Regions from separate parts of the Homo sapiens genome. Here region 1 is linked to region 2. Evidence: fine-mapped expression QTL. Tissue or cell type: cerebellar hemisphere. Region 2 holds a variant in brackets; the other region holds the start of a gene. All regions are shown on one strand. Distances are between the middles of the regions.

What was found. PIP is the estimated chance that this variant, and not a neighbour inherited with it, causes the effect.
Region 1: COL13A1 starts here. The variant in region 2 is fine-mapped to the expression of COL13A1 in cerebellar hemisphere (GTEx, PIP above 0.99).

What each region holds. Positions count from the first base shown.
Region 1 is chr10:69,800,388-69,802,887 of GRCh38, forward strand. It overlaps COL13A1 (collagen type XIII alpha 1 chain), which reads left to right and starts at 1,519. Exons shown (of 41, transcript NM_001368882.1): 1 at 1,519-2,330. The coding sequence starts at 2,037. LOC124902444 (a long non-coding RNA gene) reads right to left here and starts at 1,384. Exons shown (of 2, transcript XR_007062179.1): 1 at 659-1,384.
Region 2 is chr10:69,907,358-69,910,111 of GRCh38, forward strand. All of the region lies in intron 17 of COL13A1 (collagen type XIII alpha 1 chain), which reads left to right. Among named protein-coding and RNA genes, the nearest start is that of LINC02636, 100 kb to the right of the region's middle. The variant G/A (reference allele first, on the strand shown) is at 1,562.

The DNA of each region.
Region 1 (2,500 bases), 110 kb before region 2:
AGTGCCCTTGCCACTGAAGCCATCAGGAGAATCCTAGAACTGGAACTGGAACCCAGAGCTCCTGGCCACGGGCTCTTTCAGCAGCATCGCCTTCTATTCCTGTTGTCCTCCATAGTGGCTGACTGGCCCAGCAGTCAATGTTACCTTTATTACATATGATCTCAGTACTTACTATGTTACAAGTCCAATATGCACTATTAAGTGTGCCACACTTTATTAGAAGTGCAGTGACACTGTATTATATATCAAGTTCCATCAGGTCAATATAGAAAATGGGAAGTTTGTACTGGCATGCCTTGTTATTTTGAAATGGAATCCCAGCACCACTGCTGCCCCCACCTCCACTGCATATTTGAAAACCCAGTCTACTCTCCTCTGCCCGCTGTTCCAGGAAGACAGGCTTTCTCCCAAAAACTCAGTCCCACCACCTCATTCACAGGAATGTCAACAGGCACAAGGAGATAAAGTCTCTTGGGATACAAATGCTACTTAATGTGGGGGGTGGAGGAGGTGACAAGAGAAGAGAGAAAACTACCAAATGCCCTTCAGGCCACCAGTTTTTCTCTAGTGGAATATAGGAAATGACAACAGGAGAGAGCCTGGTTAGCCCTAAGCCTCCCGCAGGGATGGAACCTGAGTTTGTGTAGGAATTGCTCACCTTTGATGACTGGGATGATTGAGGCAGGCTGGTCTCACCACACAGGGATAGATGGCATGGGTCTCAGATTAATGGCAGGCAAGAAGGGGAGATGTCAGGACTGGCAGGCGGCCCCAATGAGCCACCTCTCAGATACCTGGAATAAGATCTCCTCCGTTTTCAGTGTCTCATACTACCTCAGGTCTTGGTCCTGAGAGGAAGGGCTGCCAGCTCTGCTGCCCCCTGGAGGGCTGACTTTTCACCCCAGAGTAAAGATGTGGTTGGCCGCCCGGCACTGGAGGAGCTGCAGATCTCAGGAGGTACAGAGCCCCCGGGGAGTCGGTTGTCGGGGGAGAAGGAAGGGGAAAGAGGTTGGGGGCTTGGGAGTAGAGGAGCGGTGGCTGAAGGGATCAGGTAGTCCTGATCAGGACGTGGAGATCCACCCACAAGCCCTGACAATAACTCAGTCGAGTTCCTGGAGGGTCTCAAGGGCTGGGAAAGGTGGAGTGGTGCCTGCCCCAACGCGTCCATGGAAGGTGGTGCCCGCCTCACCGCCTCCGTGGAAGGCCAAACGAGCCCTCGGTGTGAATCCGGAGAAAGAGAGGGAAGTGCAGCGCCAGCTCCACTCCACACCCCCTTCCTGCCTATAAATAACCCCAAGTGTCACTTCAAAGAGGACGGGGAGCGCGGCAGAGGGGCTCCCGGGCCGGCGGGCTGGGGCCGCCGGACCTGCTCACCACGCCCCCCACCCTGGGCGAGTTTGCATAAATAAACAAATCCAAGCCGTCGGCCCCGCGGGAGGTGGAGGAGGAGTGACGAGGAGGAGGAGGAGGAGGGAGGGGGGAGGGAGAGATTAGTTTGGGAAGTAGCACGGATTGCTCATCCGATCCGTGCCGCCGCAGGGAGTGTGTCAAGTTACAGAGGCGCCGGAATCGGCCCCTGCGCTCCTCGCCAGCCGCCACGACCCACCTCTGCCCATGGGGCCCTCCGTGTGCGCCCCTTCGCCCGGGGACTGAAACTGACTGGCCCGGGAGACACGAGGCGCCCAGAAGGACTGACAGCGCGGCACCAACTGCTCTGCAGACACTTGAAGGGAAAGACTGGGCGGAGAGAAGGAGAGCCGGTCAGATTCCCCTAACTTTCCTGGACTTGGAACGTTCTTCGAAATAACTTTTTTCTCACCTAGGTGTACCCCAATTACCGCTGGTTGTGCTTTTTCGGCACTTCCTCTCCTACTGCTAATTTTTCCGTCCTCTTTGCCGGGAGCAGCGGAAAGGGACGTTTTCCAGCGATACAAGCCCTTTCCCCCTGCCCCGCAGTTTGGATAGAGCCTTTTGGCAGCGGCTGTCGCCTTTATTTATTCTATTTATTTATTTATTGGTTCTCAAGACGCGAGAGGATGGTAGCGGAGCGCACCCACAAAGCGGCAGCCACCGGTGCCCGCGGCCCTGGGGAGTTGGGCGCGCCCGGGACGGTGGCTCTGGTGGCGGCGCGGGCGGAGCGCGGCGCACGGCTGCCGAGTCCAGGGTCGTGCGGGCTGCTGACGCTGGCCCTCTGCTCGCTGGCACTCAGCCTGCTCGCCCACTTTCGGACGGCCGAGCTGCAGGCCCGGGTGCTGCGCCTGGAAGCGGAGCGCGGGGAGCAGCAAATGGAGACGGCTATTTTGGGACGAGTCAATCAACTGCTGGACGAGGTCTGTGCTCTTTGTTGCTGGCTTTTATCCCTCCCCGCGGCGCCCCCTCGCGCAGCCTCCAGACTGTTCAGCCGGTGTCCGCGGGCGCTCGCTCTCTGCGAGCCCCAGGTTCGCGCGAGTTGCCTGCGGGAGGGGTCGGGGACACGGACAGACGCTGCCCTACCAGGGAT
Region 2 (2,754 bases):
AGACAAGAAATTTATTTCTTACCATTTTGAAGGCTGGGAAGCCGACAGTCAAGGGGCCCATATCTGGTGAGGACCTTCTTGTGTCATCCCATGGTGGACAGTGGAAGGGCAGGAGAGGGCGAGAGAACACGAGCAAGAGAAGGCTGGGCTTGCTGTTATAACAAACCCACTGTCGCAATCACACACCCACTCCCACAATAACTAACCCACTTCCATGATAACTAACCCACTCCCACAATAACTAACCCACTTCCATGATAACTAACCCACTCCCACAATAACTAACCCACTCTCATGATGACTAACCCACCCCCACAATAACTAACCCACTCTCACAATAACTAAACCACTCCCATGATAACTAACCCACTCCTGCAATCACAAACCCACACCCATGATAACTAACCCACTCCCACAATAACTAACCCACTCTTACAATAACTAATTCACTCCCACAATAACTAACCCGTGATAACTATCCCACTCCCGCGACAGCAACATTAATTTATTCATGAGGGCAGAGCTATCATAATCTAATCACCTCTTAAAGGTCCCACCTCTCAACACTGTTGCATTGGGGATTAAGTTTCCAACACAAGAGCTATGGGGGACACATTCAAACCATAGCACTGGAGCTCTCCAAAGTCTCCTGGCTCATAAGTGGCAGAGCAGGAGTTCAGTTCCAGGTCTGGGTCCTTCCCATGGTACCACCTGCTGTAAGGAGTGCAACCCTGCCCTCCAGACCCTGGCTGGGAAGCTGCTAGAGCCTTCCAGGAGGAGAAAAGAGGCAGGAAGGAAAGGCAGCAGCAGGAGAGGGGCAGAAATGTTGGGAAGGGAAGAAGCACTCCCTCCAAAGCACATTCCTCGCACACTGCAGTCATGAGGTTGCCATAACCACATGGCTTTATGGGTGCCTGGTGAATGAAATGGCAAGACCTGAGAGATCTTTAATTAGTTCTACATAAACTAAGACATTTGTATTGTATCAGGAAGTGGAAATCAGCCCCCGCAGTTGCCTCTATCCACTCACACAGACTCATAAAATTTACTGCCTCCTGGTGCAACGCGGGATCAGTTTTTCATTAGCAGCAGGGCCAGCTCTTTCAAGCTGTGAAGGAGTTGCAGGGCAGCAGAGGGTCTCCAGGCATCACGGCGATGCCCTTGGCTGGCATCATACCATGACAGGTGTCTGCATTCTGCTGCAAACTGGAAGAGTGATTCATCCAGAAGGGGCATGGGGTCTGCTGTCCTGAGTACGGAGAATCCTCTGCTTGGGGTTAGGGTGTCCTGACGCTAGAGGGCCTGGTCCCAGGACAGTGGCAATCCTAGACTCAGATTGTAGGAAGAAACATGTAACCCAGGCTACATTGAATTTGCAGAGAAGACCAGTGTAGCCCTCCTGATGGGGGAGCACTTCCGGTCCCCAGGAAGCGGGAGATTTGCTCAGAGCCTCCCTGCTCTAGTGTGGAAGAAGGATCATACTTTCTTTTGCATGACTAGAAGTAGAGCAAGTGCCAATGAATAAACTCTACAAGAAGAGTAATTCCAGCTCCAGAAGAGG[G/A]AGCTTCCTAATCGCCAGATGCCTTGGGAGGGAGGGAGGGAGTTCTGGTCACCAGAGGTGTTCAATTAGAGGCTGGATAATGACTGGTCTGGGATGTGTTTAGAGAAGTCTCTGTATCAGCTGGGACACTGAAAATCCCTTCCAGCTCAGGGAAGTCATAGCTTCATGGGGACAGAGTTGGCTCCATAGCCTTAAGAGAGGAGCAGCTCTGAGCCTTGATCCCTGGCCTTGAGAGGAGGCTCTGTCTCTTTGAACCTTCGTCCATGTCTTTTCTCCATCCACATCCAGGGCTTGTCAGAAGCATCCCCACTCCTAGGTCTCATGAGGCACTGAGGAGAAGACCCTTCCCCTTCATGCTGGACTCTTGCCTCCCAACCCTTCTGTCTCTGCCAGACCACCCTCTCTGCTCTTCTCCGGTAGCCTCTTCTCATGGAATCTGGAGGGGCTGTGAGGCCATCATGCCCCATCACCGCCTCTCTGGGTCACTGGAAGGTTCCCATTGCTTCCACTGCTCCCAACCTGTCACTGAGTCTTTTCAGTAGGTGCCACTGGAGCCACTAGCCTTGCAAAGCCAACAGCCCATGGCTGGTCTGGGCACCCTTTCCTCTGTTCTGGCCTTTACTCTGCTGGGACCCTTATCTTGCCACTAACTCTCCACTGCCTCCAAGTCCACCAAAGGTCAGAGGGCTGGCACTGGGAACTATGACCAGCAGCAGGCAGCCTGCCACGAAGGACTTGAGGTCATTCCTTGGGAGGCTATAAATGCCTATCCCACTGCCCCAGCCTCACTGGGACAGCAGATATCTTGACCCCCAGTGATCACCATGATCAGGCAGAAGTTTATTTCCCCTCTGAATCTTGAGATGAAGTGATTTTTCATCTTTGGGCAGTGCAGCAATATTTCACATCTCTAGTTTAGAAAGTTCATTTATTCCACCTTATTCAGTTCTTACCATGGCTCAGTGGTTAGAACTCATCCTGATTGTCTAAATGAGAGAGACTTTGCCCAAGGTTGCACAGCTAGTAAACAGCCATGCTGGAATTTGAAACCAGGCCTCATCAAGCCCTGTGGCCAGTCTGTCTTTGCACCCTGGTGCAGAAGTTGAATATCTGCTCAGGGGACTCACCCCAGGCTAAGCTAACTGCACAGACCAACCCTCCCAACCTCCACCTACTAATGGTTTCTTTGGGAT